Homo sapiens: one gene and its partner. The gene in region 1 interacts genetically with each later gene. Each region holds a gene or a part of one and is shown on either strand. Other genes may lie near its edges.

Region 1 (8,864 bases):
GCTCCCCATCATTTCCTGCCTGGAGATAGGTGGCCTGGTGTCACACCAAGCCACCAAGCCCCCAGCCTCTGATCCCCCATGTCCCGCTGCCCCAAAGGCACTGACCCCAGGTACACATGCAGTGCCCAGTGCAGCAAGGCGAAGGCATCCGCAGCTTCTAGCTCAGGCCCTGCAAGGAGGTTCTGCAGGCTGCGGCGCAAACCACTATGCAGCGTGTGGGCCCATAGCTGGACCACGTTGTACTGTGGCGGGCAGCAAGGCGCTACTAGTGCCTCAGCTGTGGCCAACTCGACTGGCAGGGCCACTCGCAGAGCCTCCAGCCACCCTGGTAGGGCCCCTGGTGCAGGCAGCAGAGGTGACCCAAAGTGGGCCTGCTCCAGGCCCTCCTGTAGTGCCCTCAGACAGCGCTGACGCCAGTCCCGGGGGACCTGGCCCAGGGGGGTTGTTCGTCCAGTCTCCACCTCCGCCACACGCACAGCAGCCACCAACAGGGCTGGGTCCTCCCGTGCCAGCTTCCCTGCGGCCCCTGCAGCTGCTTCCACAGCCTGGCCCAGTGCCTCGAACAGAAGGTCCAGCCCCTGGAAGACTGGCAACTCCAGGCCCCCCAGGGGTGCCCACGTATCCTCTCGCAGCTGCTCCAGCTCCCGAAGGCTCACATATGCCTCCAAGAACTGTTGGCCATCAATCAGAGTCTGTGTGTGGGACACTGCAGCCGGCACTAATGAGAGTGAAAAGGAGACGGCCCTGGGTCTCAGCCTTCCCACCGCCTCAATGTGTACAGCAGGGGATACTGAGGCCCAGGGCGGGGGTGATGCATAAAATATTTAACAACCAGTAGAGTAAGCTGGGCACAGTGGCTCATGCCTGTAATCCCAGCACTTCGGGAGGCCAACGTGGGTGAATCACTTGAGGTCAGGAGTTTGAGACCAGCCCGGCCAACATGGTGAAATCCCATCTCTACTAAAAATACAAAAATTAGCCAGGCATGGTGGCACATGCCTGTAATCCCAGCTACTGGGGAGGCTGAGGCAGGAGGATTGCTTGAACCTGGGATATGGAGGTTGCAGTGAGCCGAGATCACACCACTGCACTCCAGCCTGGGTGACAGAGTGAGACTCTGTTTCAAAAACAAAACAAAACAAAAAATGAACAAAAAACCATAAATAAATAAATAAATAACCAGTAGAGTACTGGCCAATCTAAGAGGATCTTGGCAATGTCCTAAAGACCTGGTGGGCCAGAGGTCAACCCATGAACTCATGGAATATGAGGAAGCTGAGGATCCTGGAGGGAAGGCAGGGGAAATCGGGGGGTCCTGCCAGTACTCGCTCAGCCACTCTGTTAGGGAAGAGTTTGAATATACTGATAACCAGGTGGCCAGAGTCACATGACTGGGTGTCTGTCCTGACTCAAGCATCCCACACGTGGGAATCCCAGGATGAGCTGCCTCATAGGCCATGGGAAGCCCGGGCTACTGTCTGGGAGGTCCCTGGTGTGCTGCTCTATGCAGTTCCCCATCTAGTGCCCCAGCCCCTTGATTAGGGATGGGTGTTTGTGGACTGACTATTGGAGGCTGAGGCCCAGGGTCCCTGCATGCTCACCTGCCCGCAGCCGAGGCAGCAGGTGAGACAGGGCCTGCAGTTGCTTGTGCTGGGCAACCCGCTCCCGTAGGGGCTCTAGAGTCTGTAAGGCCTGGGACATGCCCTGGAGCAACCCACGGGCCTGGCTCAGGGCCTCCCGGGTTCCCTGCACCACCTCAATGGCCTGGGCCAGCTGCCACACACCAGTCTGCACGCCTTCCAGGTATGACTGCATCACTGACTGTGGAAAGATGGAGCCATGAGGCTGGGCCAGCCCTGCAGCACAGTCCCAGCACCCGCACCCCCTGCCCCATGCCCACCTTGAGGCGCGATTCCAGGGAGCAGGTACGCTGCACCTCGCGGCTGCGGTACTGGCCTAGCCTGGCCAGCTGCTCCGGCCGGTAGAAGATGCCTGAGGCCCACTTGAGCGCTGCACCCCGGGCCAGCTGCTCTGCCCGCTCCTGCTCTGGCCACTCAGGTCCTGGGAAGGAAGAGCCTGGGCAGCCGTGTAGTCAGGGAGGAGGGCCCAACGACCCCAGTCCCAGCTTTCTTATTTATTTATTTATTTATTTATTTGTTTGTTTATTTGTTTATTGAGATGGAGTCTCGCTCTGTTGCCCAGGCTGGAGTGCAGTGGTGCAATCTCGGGTCCCTGTAACCTCCGCCTCCCGGGTTCAAGCGATTCTCCTGCCTCAGTCTCCCGAGGAGCTGGGATTACAGGCGCGTGCCATCACGCCCAGCTAGTTTTTGTATTTTTAGTAGAGACGGGGTTTCACTATGTTGGCCAGGTTGGTTTGGAGCTCCTGACCTCAGGTCATCTGCCCATCTTGACCTCCCAAAGTGTTGGGATTACAGGCGTGAGCCACTGCGCCCAGCCAGTCCCATCTTTGTTGCCATCATTCCTCCCCTAGTCCACCCAAAAGGTTCATACCAGGGGACAACGCCGGCTGCATCTCATCCTTGGCTGCTGAGTCCATTGTGGGCCTGGAGGAGCCAGAGCTGAGGTGGGCCCGGGGCAAGCAGGCAGAGTAGATGCCCCTGTGAGCTGCTGCCTCTGTCTAAGCCCTTCTGAGAGGAGGAAGGAGGTTCTTCCCGGCCCCCTCGGGAAGTGAGAGGGAGCGGGTGTGATGCGGAGGGCACCTGGGAGGCTTTGCCTGCTAGGTTTCCCAGTCGTGCCCCTGCAGATGTCAAGCGAGACAGAGTGGGCACAGGCCTCCACTGGACCCTGGTCCTGCTCTGAGCTGCACAGGACAGTTTGGTACAGAACTTACCAGATTTGATCAGGCGTCCAGTTCTCCCTCCAAAAATGACCTTGGCCTTGAGAACAGCCCTCTCCCCAATGCAGCTGGGCACGCCTGCCACTTGCTCACAGGGCCTGGGCAACTCCAGCTGACTCCAGCGTGCAGCTGAATTCCTCTCCCCAAGGAAGTCTCTCTCCCACTCCCCACCCAGAAGCCCCTTCTTCCCACCGAGGCTCCTCCCTCCCCAAGGCCATCAACAGAAAGGAAGGAAGCTGAGTCTCTGGCATTTTATTCCCAACAGGAAAGAGTGTCTGCACAGAGGGTGGGGACAGCTGGGCGACACTTCCCTGAGGGGCGGGGGGGTGGGGTGTACTTGTACTCAACCAGTCTTGACCAGCCTACCCAGAACCTCTTAGTGCTCAGGAGAGGAGATAGGGATTTGCTAGACTTGGCCTCAACCTGGGGTGGTGGGCAGAGTGTGCAGATATGGATGCAGACGACATCAACAGCACAGGATGAAAACTGTGTTGGCCAGCCTCTGAGGAGGATGTGTACCTCTGCGGAGGAGTGAGAGGTGGCAGGCTCTTGTGAAGAGGGGTGTGGTGGGGGGTGGTAGGAGAGGGTCATGAAAGCTGTGTTTATCTTTTTTGTTTTAGACAGGGTCTTGATCTGTCACCAAGGCTGGAGTACAGTGGCACCACCATAGCTCACTGCAGCCTTCTGGGCTCAAGCGATCTGCCTGCCTCAGCCTCCCAAAGTGTTGGGAGATTACAGGCGTGAGTCACCGCAACTGGGCAGCTGTGTTTATCTTGAGAGTTATAGGGAGCCAGGGAAGGGACTATAAGGTGGTAATTATTTAGTGGATGTTCAGTCCACCACCCAAATCCACCCTTCAGGACAGAAGTGCTCATTCTCCAGCTGCCAGGAGTGTAGGCTACTGAGATCACACCACTGAGTCTCTCAGTCAATATTGGGGTGCAAAAGCATGGTACCATCGTGTGAACATGAACCCTTCAGAAGTGCTACCCCAATTTCAGAGATCCTAGTGGGATAGGCTGAGGCCTATAATATAATTGCATCTGCTCAATTCTGCTTGTCTTAATCCCTTAAAGGTGTGGATCCTGACCAGGTGCGGTGGCTCACACCGGTCATCCCAGCATTCTGGGAGGCTGAGGTGGGAGGATCTCTTGAGCCCACGAGTTCAAGACTAGCCTGGGCAATATAGTGAGACCCACATCTCTAAAAAACTAAAAATAAATGAGCCGGGCATGGTGGTGCATGCCTGTGGTCCCAGCTACTTGGGAGGCTGAGGTGGGAGAATCGCTTGGGCCCAGGAAGCTGAGACGGCATTGATCTTGCCACTGCACTCCGGCCTGGGCAACAGAGTGAGACCCTGTCTCAAAAAAAAAAAGTGTGGATCCCCAACAAACTTGCTGCAAAACCCTATCTCGAGTCCCATTTCCCAGAGGACCTGATCTAAAAGAAACAATAATAAATAGTAACAATGTTAAAAGTTACAAAATGACCGTATCACACATTCCTGCATGCCAGGAATGACTGAGTGCTTTACTGATATTTACACATAGGTAAACACGTTTGCATTGGCTGAAGTGTTCATAACCCCATAGTCTCTGAGCACTGTACTGTGAGGACAAGACGAGCGAAAGATGAGGCTAGGACCATGGGTGGAACAAGGTGGACAAGGTAGATATAGTTAGTGCTTGCTGTTTGGCAGGAAGTGAGGGATAGGAATAGATGGGGTGACCCCAAGACAGTAGGGCAGCCTTTAGGAACAGGTTTGATGTGGCAGTAAAATGAGTTTGAAATATATAAAAGAATAAATAAAGAGAAAAAAATGGAAAAGGAACAGGTTTGAGGGAGCAGATTGGATTAGTCAGGTAGTGTGGTCTCCTCTCCCAAGATGGGGACTAGGCAGAGTTAGTGATGTTGGGGCAGATTGGCAAGGAAAGTTCCGATGGCGTCCCCTTCTCTACTGCCAGGGCGGCCCACTGACGCCCTTCTCATTCCTCCCCAACTTCATCCCAACTCCCCGGTCTACCCAGGTAGTTTTCGTCTTATTCGGAGGCTGGACATTTGCTACTGGTCCCTGAAGTTTTGCGGCTGCACCCACAGACAGCAATAGCGCCACGTTCCCTGGAAGGCGCACGGGACGGAAGCGGAAGCAGTAACGCTGGCTCCGGCTGCCCGGCGGCCAGGAACGGAAGCGGAAGTGGCGGCGGCGCCGGCCTGGCCTGGCCTGGCTGAGGGGAGGCGGCGGGCGGGCGCGATGGCGGAGGCCGGGCCACAGGCGCCGCCGCCCCCGGGCACTCCAAGCCGGCACGAAAAGAGCCTGGGACTGCTCACCACCAAGTTCGTGTCCCTTCTGCAGGAGGCCAAGGACGGCGTGCTTGACCTCAAGCTGGTGCGGCCTGGGCTAAGGGGAGACAAGGGAGGCTGGTGGACCAGGCCTGGGCCGGTAGCGGGAACCCCGGGGGCGGCCCAGCTGGGTCCTCCGAGAGCCGGCCGCCATCGTGTGCTTTCTCACAGGAGAGAAGCCGGGGGATGTTTCATTCATTCGGCCGAGGCCATCGAGCTACAGCTATGGGCCAGGCTCGGGCTGCAGGTGTTCGTCCTCGTGGCCCTTCCTGGCTGGCGAGGAGAAGAGCTGCCTATGGGACAGAGCTGCGGTCCTGAGCTGCAGTAGCGCCTGGGAGGCACTACAGGGTTGGAATCCAGATTACTCCCTTCCCAGACCACGTCTCAGGGTGGCTGGGGGTACACCCCAGAGTGGGGCTGAGCATTCTCCATTCTCTCTGCCAGGCAGCTGACACCCTAGCTGTACGCCAGAAGCGGCGGATTTACGACATTACCAATGTTTTGGAAGGTATCGGGCTAATCGAGAAAAAGTCCAAGAACAGCATCCAGTGGAAGTGAGTGGGCATAGTGGGAGGGTAGTAGAGTCTCCCACCCAGAAGTGTCGGGCGTGGGGTGGAGGGTGCCGAAGAAGGCAGGGGCCATGGGACCCAGAGTTCTCAGCAGTCCCTCTCAGCCCCACTCCCTGGGCTCAGGGGTGTGGGGCCTGGCTGCAATACCCGGGAGATTGCTGACAAACTGATTGAGCTCAAGGCAGAGATCGAGGAGCTGCAGCAGCGGGAGCAAGAACTAGACCAGCACAAGGTGTGGGTGCAGCAGAGCATCCGGAACGTCACAGAGGACGTGCAGAACAGCTGATATCCTCCTGGCGGTCCCTGCTGGGGGGAGTGGGCAAGGGGCCCTCTGGTTCAACTTGCCCTGAGTCCTGTTCCTCTTGGGAGTTTGTCTTATAGCCACTGGCCATGGCCCAGCCTCAGGCTCCCTCCTCAGAGCCCCTCCCCTTCCACTCTTAGCCTGTGATCCCTCCCCCGGTGGACCTGAGTCCCCAGAACGGTCTCTGAGGGCCTGTGTGTCAGACCTTAGCTAAAGAATTGGGTCTTTTCTGTAGTCTGCCATCTGTCACCATAGGGCATCAGCCATTCTCCTTAACCCTCACACTTTGGCCTACGTCACTCATGAGGACATCTGCAGATGCTTTGCTGGTGAGCAGAGCCTGGGTAGGGGTAAGGGGGTGGGCTGGGCTCAGCCAAAGTCCTGAGCACTGGGCTCAGTGTCTTAGGAGAGTTCTGTCTCTTAAGAGGGTTTCTGGGGCCTGCTCAGAGAGGAACCAGGCAGGGTAAGTCTTCTGTCTGAGTGTCACTGGGACCCTGTGGAGGTCAGCTATACCAAAAGGGTACAGAAATTCTGGAGTGGGTCCCTGGGTCTGTTCCCATCTCTACTGTTTCCTGGATTTGGCTTCTTGGGTATGATAGAGGCACAAGGGGGAGAGAGGGAGAGAGGATATGTGTGTATTTGCTTGTGTGCAGGCTCTTACATGCAGGGCATGGGGGTGCCCACTTCCAACTTGTTAGTTTAGTTGCATTGTGAATACAGGATCTGTTCCTTTTTTTTTCTTTTTAAGAGATGGGCTCTTGCTGTGTTGCCCAGGCTGGTCTTGAACTCCTGAGCTCAAGCTGTCTTCCCTCCTCAACCCCCTAAAGTGCTGGGATTATGGGTGTGAGCCACTGTGCCCCGCTGATGTGTTTCTTCTCCATCTTGTATGCTCCTGACTGGTCATGGGAAAGGGATGTTGGCCTTGGCTAGAACACCCTCACCTAGGGATCAGCCATCGGTAGAGGAATGAGGTGCCTGTGGCCAGTGATCTTTCACTCCACATAATTGAACCCAGATTTCCTGGTTACTGACCCTGGGCTCTCAGGAAGAGAAGAGCTTTAGCTCTGCCTGGCCACTATGGGGGATGGGTGAGGCCCACTGTCTAGTTCCTCAGGGACCGTGATCTCCTGCCTTGCTCCAAAAGGCAGGCACCTCTGTTCCCAGCTCAGATTGAGCCCATGGGCTCTGACCCATTCTCCATGTCATTCTAGGAGATACCCTCTTGGCCATCCGGGCCCCATCAGGCACCAGCCTGGAGGTGCCCATCCCAGAGGTGGGTGCTTAGCCCAGGCAGGCGGGGTCAGCTGAGGGCGGGTGCTGGCTGTGGAGCCTGATAAGTCCTGGGTGGGGCAAGTAGGGGGAGGCCTGGAGTTTGGGGTTATCTAGGAGGATGGGCATCCTGGGTGGGAGAGGACACTGTGGTCCTGACCCGGAGTCGGGCAGGAGCCAAGCCTGCTTACAATTCTACCCATCTCCCATCCCTTACCACCCATCTCTAGGGTCTCAATGGGCAGAAGAAGTACCAGATTCACCTGAAGAGTGTGAGTGGTCCCATTGAGGTTCTGCTGGTGAACAAGGAGGCATGGAGCTCACCCCCTGTGGCTGTGCCTGTGCCACCACCTGAAGATTTGCTCCAGAGCCCATCTGCTGTTTCTACACCTCCACCTCTGCCCAAGCCTGCCCTAGCCCAGTCCCAGGAAGCCTCACGTCCAAATAGTCCTCAGCTCACTCCCACTGCTGTCCCTGGCAGTGCAGAAGTCCAGGGAATGGCTGGCCCAGCAGCTGAGATCACAGGTGAGGCACCATGGGAGCTTGTGACAGAGGCCCAAGAGGTAGTATCTCTGTGTTGTGGAACACCATGCTCAGAGTTGGAAGAGACTCTTCAGGTTGGGGATTGTCCTTTTCCTGACCACCTAGCCTTCCCTTGCTATGGTAATGAATGAGCCTTTTTTGTTTTTGTTTTTGAGACGGAGTCTCACTGTGTCCCCCAGGCTGGAGTGTGCAATGGCGCGATCTTGGCTCACTGCAACCTCTGCCTCCCAAGCTCAAGAAATTTTCCTGCCTTAGCCTCCTGAGTAGCTGGGATTACAGGCGCCCACCATGCGCAGCTAATTCTCGTACTTCTAATAGAGATGGGGTTTCACCATGTTGGCCAGGCTGGTTTCGAACTCCTGACCTCAAATGATCTGCCTGCCTCGGCCTCCTGTAGTGCTGGGATTACAGGCTTGAACCACCATGCCTGCCTGAATGGGCCCTTTTTAACAGGGAACCTCTGACTGTGGGAAGAGCCATTGCTGGTGGCAGTTTTCTCCCCCAGATCCACATCCACTGGTGTCTCAATTGCCCTGGTAGCCCGTCTTGAAGTATGGCCACAGCAGACATGTTGACCACGAGTCTTCTTCTGTAGGTCTTGTGTCCCTGTCTCCTGTGGTGACTAATTTCAGGTTACTTCCTCTGGGGGTGACTGGCAATGCCTAATTCTCCTTGGGTCTGGGAACCAGGCTTGTGGTCCTCCTGTGTCTGGGTTCCAGCACAGCCAGTTTCAACGACCTCTTCCTGACCTTGTATGACTGGGTTTGGGGGCTATCATTGTAGTGAGTGGCGGCCCTGGGACTGATAGCAAGGACAGTGGTGAGCTCAGTTCACTCCCACTGGGCCCAACAACACTGGACACCCGGCCACTGCAGTCTTCTGCCCTGCTGGACAGCAGCAGCAGCAGCAGCAGCAGCAGCAGCAGCAGCAGCAACAGTAACAGCAGCAGTTCGTCCGGACCCAACCCTTCTACCTCCTTTGAGCC
Region 2 (8,103 bases), about 16 Mb from region 1:
AAAGGCCAGCAATTATTGTCCTGTTTCCTGCTTATGGGTTCCTTACTTCAGGATTTTCAAACTTGAATTTTTCTTCAGTCCTTCTGCGAGAGAACATACACCTTCATCCTGGAGATGGTTCTCCTCCAGGCTGGTGAGAAGAAGAGAGAAAATCCAGTTGATACAACATTGATTATGGAAGATGATGAACTCACATGCCCCCCATATAGGAAATCCAACATCTGAAAACCCAAACTCATGGATAAAGAAAGAACAGATAAAGTACGTTGTGGGGATTCTCAATTCCAGGGACATATTTGCAAGAGAATTCACTCCAAGGGCTCTCAATGTAATAAGTTCCCTGATCCCCCAGCTTCCTGATCTCCATCTTTCCTTTCTTCCTTATTAATGGAAGTCTCATTTCATTTGGACAGCCATGCACTTGGTGAAAAAACTGTATTTCCCACTCTCCATTGCAGCCAGGGCTGGTCAAACAACATACAAGTGGGTTGGTCAAGTGACATACACATGGTTGATACATAAGGGGAAGTCGACAGGTGGGGCTTCCAGGAATGCTTTTTAAAGGAGAGAACCCAGATGGCTTTCCTGGGTATATAGATCGAATCCGGGAATACAGAAGTAGTGCTGCACCTGGAGCAGCCATCCTGTGATCATGAGACAACCAACCATGTGAATGAAGTCACAGGCTAAGAATGATGGAACAGGAAGAGAATGAGACAGAGCTGAGACCCCTCCTGGCCTCTTGTAGCCACTGTACAAACCCTACACTGCCTACATCCAGCTGCCTATACAGGAAAAAATAAACCCTTTCCTTGTTTAAACCTCTATAGATGGAGGTATTCTGTCACCTGCAGCTTAACATATAGTTAAACTAAATTTGGCCTGAGACTGCCTCTGTACTTTGAGTTCCTATGTAGCAAACTGCAACCTAACAACATATCCTTATAACAAACAGCTAAGTCTTAGCCAATCACAGCAGCCAGGCTTCAGTCAGTCACAGTCTACCAGCTGATCAGTCTATATCCATATAAAGAAAATGCCTCATCACACCATGCCCATATAAGGCAAATGCCCAGCTGCAACCAATCAAGCTGTTTTGTACATCACTTCCTTTTCCTGTCTATAGATACTGCTTGCCTACCTTGCTGGGTGGAGCACTCCCAGTTCTGAATGCTGCCCAATTCATAAATTGCTGTATGTTCAAACCAGTTCTGCTAAATTTAATTTGCCTAAAGTTTTTCTTTTAACAGTAATCATAACTGATGCTCTCATAACAAGGTTCTCCTCTACTAAGAAATTCCAAGTGGCAAAATCCAGTCAGGATAGAATCAATCATACTTGAGTAGAGCTAGTAAGCCCTGCAACAGCCAAGGTCCATCCATAAAATCTGTTTATGGCAATGCCCATATGTTGCAGTGCCTTTCTGCTTCCCGGGAAAATCAAACATTCAGTATTTTATCTCCCTGACATAATCTGAAGCTGCCCAGAACATGTCAGAAAACTATACTAGTGGCATCTAAAGGATGAGAAACTTAGAATCTGCTTCAGGTCAACAGTATAAGCATGATTCATGGTTCCTCTTTCAACTATCAAAACTCCATTACACCTTCCAAAATGACCTAAGACTTGAATACCCAGTGCTCCTAGGAACTCAAAATCACTTTAAAATAACAAAACTTTATTAGTAGTAGTAGTCACAGTACTATAGTAGTTGTAGCAGCAGCAGCAGCAGCAGCAGCAGTAATAGTAGTAGTAACCCTGCCATTATTCTAATTTAACATTTATGGAGCACTTACAAATATGCCAGGCACTATATTAAGGTCTTCACAGGCACTACTTTATCTAATTCTTGCAAAAATCCTTTATGGTTGGAAGTATTCTTACCCTCATTTTACAGACATGAAACTTGAGATTCTGAAATTGTTATTTAACTTGCCTAAGATCACGGCCTGCTTGATTACAGAGTCTGTGCTCTTAACACTTATGCCATGTGGAGGCAGTCACCAAACCAGCAAACCCATATATTTTATTAAATAAAAAAATTAGCATGTACATACCAGGCTCTATAAGCTTCATACCACTCAGTACATATAAAGACAAACACAATCAATCAATCAGTCAATCACTCAATCATCCACCTTTGTCTGTCCACACAACCGCTCCTATGGATGAGGCCAGGGGATCAACAGAGATTGTGATCCACTTCCCCAGAGCAGAGAATCCCCCAAACTCACCAGAGTTCTTCTAGCATGACGTTCTTTGCCAGCATCAGTGCCAAGGCTTGGGCACCCACACTGCCAATGTTGTTCCCCACCAGGCTGGAGGTAATCATGGAACAAAAGTATGTCAGAGCAGGGAAAGACCTCAGAGATGAGCTAACCTATGGAGGGCAAAATTCGTGGTGCTCTCCTGGTCTGCTCCATTTCAGACATCACTAATTGATTGCGGTGCTCTTTCTTTTTTCTTTTTTTTTTTTTTTCTACCCTTTTTAGACATCACTAATTGAATGCAGTGCTCTTTTTTTTTTTTTTTTAGCTTTTTTAGACATCACTAATTGATTATAGTGCTCTTCTTTAAGCCCAGGTGCAGCCTTAGAATTCTTTTTAATGTGGTGCACTGGGCACCCACTACCAATGGATTGGAATTGGTCCTTAAGATAAAATGTACCTGATCCAGCCCAATATCTTCAATTTACAGATACTGTATCAAAACCCTGAGAGGACAAGGGACATTTCCAAGTCACCCAGAAAGACTCGAGTGTCCTCTCTTGAAATCCAATGGTCTTTTTTCCTTACTCCATTGCCTAACATTGTGGGGTAGAAATAAAGTTCAAAGACCTTCAGAACTGGCCCCAGCTCCTCCCTCTTCACCTGATCTCCCCAAGAAAACTGCAGGATAGACTCTGAAGCTTACCTGAGCCACCTCAAGCTCTGGTGATCACCCAAGGCTTCAGCCAGGGCCTGGGCCCCCTCGTCACCCACTCTGTTGCCCCAGAATCTGAAAAGGCCAAAAGAGTCAACAGACAGTGTCAGTGAGTACCTGATATGTGTTCTAGACATGAACTAACAGTCCTCCTCCCTCTGCAGTCCCAGCCAGAGGGGCAGGACCACTCAATCCCAGAGTGGCCTCACTGGGGCTCCTGGTCCCAGCAAAGTGGACCTGCCTCCATCTTTTGGGTGGGATGGCCAAACTTAACCCAAGAGTTTTCAGTGGCTTTACATTACAGACTTAGAGAATAGTAGAGGGCTACCCAGCCCTAACCCTTAAGGACAGGAACTCACTGACAAGAGTAATTTACAGTTGTGACACTTTTTCTGACACTTAGTTCAGATACGCTTCCTGGTAACTGCCACCCACAAGTCCTTAGCTACCCTCCAGTACCTGCCCATAACAAGTCTAACACTTCTTCTGCAAGCTAGCTCTTTATCTCCTGCTTCTTCCTAACACCCCTAATTCCTTCACGCCATCAGCTTCAACTCCCCCAGCTTCTGGGCCATCCTCCTCTGACTCACTGTAGTTTGAAAACATCCCTTTCCAAAAGGTAGATCCCAACTCACACCTTCTGACTTATTGACTGTATTCTAGGGACCTACCCTGGACAGGTATGTACACAAGTTAGCAAAGAATGGCTGAATTAGGATGTCCACTGTACTTTCATTCATTAGGTATGTATCGATTGAGCTCTGGCTATGTGCCAGCACTGCTCTGTGCCCCAGGGATATGACACTGTAATAACAAAAAACCTGAAAACAACTTAATAGTCATCAAAAAGTGACCAGTTAAATACATTATGTAACACTCTGCAGCTCTTTGAAAAATGAGGTCAGGCTGAGCAAGGTGGCTCACTTGTGTAATCCCAATACTTTGGGAGGCAAAGGAGGGAGGATCACCTGAGCCCAGGAGTTTGAGACCAGCCTGGGCAACATAGTGAGACCCCGTCTCTACAAAACATAAAAATATCGGCCAGGCATGGTGGCTTGTGCCTGTAGTCCCAGCTACTCAGGAGGCCGAGGTAGGAAGATCACTTGAGCTCAGGAGTTCAAGGCTACAATGAGCTATGATTGCAACCACTGCACTCCAGCCTGGGTGACAGAGTGAGACCCTTTCTGTAAATATTAGTAAAATAAATAAATAGATAATTAAGTAAATAAAGAGGTCATAATGACCTAAAAAAATTCCTATAATATATGGCGAAGCAAAAAAAAACAACAACAAAAACAAAACAAAACAAACAAACAAACAAAAAAAAAAACCAAGCAAGTTACAGAACACTTTGTATCATATGACAGCGTTTGGGGGTTTTAGCACAACGCCTGGCCCAGACAGGTGCCCTAATAAATATGTGTTGAAAGAGGTAAATACCCCTGATGTGGCAGATGTGACCTCAAGCAGAAGAGAGTTCAGTGGGGCTGTGGCCTCCTTTGTTCTAGACTCTGTTGCTACTAATGCAGTGTGGAAAAGATGTTGATTTCTAGAGCAACATAGTCCCATTTGTGGCTCAAACTGAGCTTGGGGGCCGGGTGCGGTGGCTCACACCTGTAATCCCAGCACTTTGGGAGGCCGAGGCGGGCGGATCATCTGAGATCAGGAGTTCAAGACCAGCCGGGCCAACATGGTGAAACCCTGTCTCTACTAAAAATACAAAAATTAGCTGGGCGTGGTGGTGGGTGCCTATAATCCCAGCTACTTGAGAAGCTGAGGCAGGTGAATCGCTTGAACCAAGGAGGCGGAGGTTGCAGTGAGCCAAGATCGTGCCACTGCACTCTAGCCTGGGCAACAGAGTGAGACTACATCTCAAACAAAACAAAACAAAACAAAAAACTGAGCTTGGGGGCAACTTGCCTCCCTGTGAAATGGGCTGGAACACCTAGGCCCTAAGGTTATTCTCTCTTCCTACAGTCCCAGGTTCTAAAACTCCCAGTTCTTGTCAAATGGACTCCAGTTCACACTAGGGCATGACAGGATAGGAGAGAGGCTGCTGGAAACAGCACAGGTGCAAGCCTGGGTGCCTAGCAAACAGAGGAAGCCCACCCTGGGGCTGCAGGTTGGGGTACTCCCCTCCCTGGCAGGCCCTAGCATGGTCCTACAGGGAGCAAGAGCTCCGAGGGACCTAGCACAGCCCCTCTTATCCTGGGTGCCTTCCTATCCTTCCCCATTTCCTTCTCTTTCTTAGGTCAGGGGTCCTCACCCCTGGCTGTACATCCCCTGGGAAGCTTTTTAAAACTCCTGATACCTGGGCCTTGCACCTAGATATTTGCATTTCATCAGTCTGGGGTGGGAGGCCTGGCAATAGTGTTTAGAAGCTTCCAGGTGGTTTTAATATGCAGCTAAAGTACAGCCCTAGCGCCCCCTGAGGATCAGAGGGCTTCCTGTCACCAGCTCGTGGGCACTGTCCTCCCCTAGCCCCAACATCCCAAACTTCCTGTTTGTCAGGCATAGACCAAGTATGAAGGTGGCAGTCAAGGGCCGCCCACTCTCTCCCTGGCTTGTCCTCCCCACTGGAGCTGGGCTGCCTCTGGGGCCTCCTGGCTGAAGAGTTTCACCTGCCCCTAAATCCTCAAAAGTCCCAAGCCCCTCCATGCAGGTCCCTCTTCCTGGAATCCAACCTACCCCAGGAACTGCAAGGAGGTGTTGCCTCGGAGCCCCTCGGCCAGCACTTGGGCTCCCGCGGCAGTGATGTAGTTATTCCCCAGCCTGGAAGGGAAGACAGAGGAGGCTGAGAGAACACAGCGGCAGGCAGAAAAGGAGGGCCGTCTGTGCCCTGGCCAGGGAAACACAGGAAGAAAGCATTGAAGACCTGCCCGGGAGGCAGCAGCCACATCAGGTGCCCTCGCTGCTAGGTCTAGTTTACTCAGCGGCTCCCACAACTTCATTTTCCCCCAGCAAAGGGAAAGGGGCAGCGGGACGCTGTTTGCACAGCAGTGTGACAATTCCAGGCAGGAGCCACAGTAGGCAGCTGTCCTGGGAGGTGGTTTCCCCGGGACAGCGAGGGTGACTCAGGGTCACACCTTTCCCTCTGGTCTCAGCCGCCCTCGATCCAGACCCCATCGTGCCCTCTGCAGCCTTCCCAGATCTGTTGTTGCTACAGGTAGGCTTTACCTGTTGCACAAGAGCGCTGGGCAGGTCCAGGTGGCTGGAGGGAGGGGTGGGGCCCACTGAGCCTTCCAGAAAGGAAGGAGAGAGGGAGGGCCAAGGCTAGGGGTGGGGGAAGATCCCAGCAAGGAAGGCTCCTGCTGCAACTGAATCCAGACACCTCGGAGAGCTTCGGAGAAGCCCCAGAGCTCTCACCTGCAACCCTAGGCTTCCTGGGATAACTATACGCTTTCATTCTTTCAAGGAACGTCAAGCCACTCAGCTCACAACAATCCTATAAGGCAGATATTATTGTATCCTTGGAGAAGGGGTGTGGCAGCTAGGAGAACTCGCCTTTCAGGTCTCCAGCCTCAGCTCCTTGGAGGTAGCCAAGGGCCCCAGCTGCTGTGCTCCAAAATCTAACATCCTCGCATCTGCACTTGCCAGCCCCTGCCTGAGACATCAGGCTCCCCTGCCTGGTGAATTTGGTTCAAGAACTCCTCATCAGCCTTGCCAAGATGTCTTAGGACTGCACTGAAGTCCAAGGTGCCCAGTCTCAACCTTCCTTCCTTCCCTCTCTCCTTCACTCAGGGACACACCTCCCAGCCTCCCCCAGCTCCCTTCCCCACTTCCCCTTTTAGGACTTTTCCCCAATAAATGGGTGGCACATTGAATCCCTGCTTGGAGGACCGGACTCACATAAGGAGAAACAAGCTGAGTGCTTGTGTGATTTACCCATCATCTTTCAGCCACTCGCTTACTATATAAAGCCCCTGCCAGACGGTGCAGCCCTTCATGTGGATTAACTTGCTTGCTCATCACTACAGCCTGTGAGGTAGCCAGGGTTATTACCTCCATTCTACAGAAGGGGAAACGGAGGCACACAGACATTGGGCTGACCTGAGGTCACGCAGCTAATGAGGGTTCAAACCTCGGGCAGTCTGGCTCCAGAGCCTGTGCTCTCTATTACAATGATATACGGTAATCCCTGCCCCCTGCTTATCCGCAGCTTCGCCTTCTATGGTTTCAGTTATCTGAAATCAACTGCAGTCCAAAAATATTAAATGGAAAATTCTAGAGATAAACAATTCATACATTTTAAATTGCATGCTATTCTGATCACGTGCCATCCAGCTCCATCCCACCCAGGACGTGAATCAGCCCCCCGTCCAGCGCATCCACGCTCTATACGCTCCCATTTGGTAATCATCAAGATCGTCTGCTCCTGACATCCAGCTGCCGACCTCATTGTTGCTCAAAGATTAGGGATCTCTGGGAGCAGATGATTCTCCTCCTGAAGTGTGGTCAGGTCAACAGCAGCCCAGCGCTAGAGCACAGTGCTGCATGCGTCATCCACCTCACTTCCTCCCATCACACAGGCATTTTACCACCACACATCTTCCCAAGAAGAAGGGTGAGTACAGTACAAGAAGATATTTTGAGGGAGATGGAGAGAGTCCACATTCACATAGTGTTATTATAGTACATTGATTGTTATAATTGTTCTATTTTATTATGAGTTGCTATTACTCTCTTACTGTGCCTAATTTATAAACTACACTTTATTGCAGGTGTGTAGGTATTGGGAAAAGCATGGTATGTGTAGGGCTTGATACTCTCCATGGTTTCAGGCATCCACTGGGGTCTTAGAACATCTCTCCTGCACATACCGGAGGACTACTGTGTTGGCCACAAACTCAGCCTCCATTTCTGAAACTAGCACCCTTCTCAGGGATGGGCCAGCCAGGTCTGGCCACAGCCTATTCCAGGCTTGTGAGTCTGAGGGATCAGGCAGTGGTAGCAGGACTGAGTCCTTTGTACAAATTGGCACCTGTGGTTCTGATCTCAGTAGCCCTTGCCGAGACTGAGCTATGTGGCCCGCCATTTTAAAATGGCGGCTCCCATCCACAAACCCAGCCCAAGAGGTAAAAGAATAGATGGAAGCAATTCTTTACTTTGTCTTTTTTTACTGCCTCACAAATCACAGGAGGCAAGAATATCTGAGAGAGAGAGAAGGAGAGAGAAGCCAGG

What was found. A genetic interaction does not mean that the proteins touch.
Region 2: changes in E2F4 (region 1) and NOD2 together harm fitness more than expected from each alone (negative genetic interaction), as found in Homo sapiens cells (one study listed by BioGRID).

Annotation. Positions count from the first base shown.
Region 1 is NC_000016.10:67,187,120-67,195,983, forward strand, and holds the start of E2F4 (transcription factor E2F4), read left to right. Parts: upstream 1-5,035; 5' UTR 5,036-5,108; coding exon 5,109-5,243; intron 5,244-5,641; coding exon 5,642-5,751; intron 5,752-5,889; coding exon 5,890-6,051; intron 6,052-6,352; coding exon 6,353-6,396; intron 6,397-7,278; coding exon 7,279-7,340; intron 7,341-7,566; coding exon 7,567-7,861; intron 7,862-8,662; coding exon 8,663-8,864. Other genes in the region: EXOC3L1 (exocyst complex component 3-like protein), read right to left, coding at 1-19, 106-718, 1,602-1,821, 1,901-2,061, 2,512-2,557. UniProt on the Homo sapiens protein: Transcription activator that binds DNA cooperatively with DP proteins through the E2 recognition site, 5'-TTTC[CG]CGC-3' found in the promoter region of a number of genes whose products are involved in cell cycle regulation or in DNA replication.
Region 2 is NC_000016.10:50,717,516-50,725,618, reverse strand, and holds part of NOD2 (nucleotide-binding oligomerization domain-containing protein 2), read right to left. Parts: intron 5,695-8,103; coding exon 5,611-5,694; intron 2,998-5,610; coding exon 2,914-2,997; intron 2,319-2,913; coding exon 2,235-2,318; intron 131-2,234; coding exon 47-130; intron 1-46. UniProt on the Homo sapiens protein: Pattern recognition receptor (PRR) that detects bacterial peptidoglycan fragments and other danger signals and plays an important role in gastrointestinal immunity.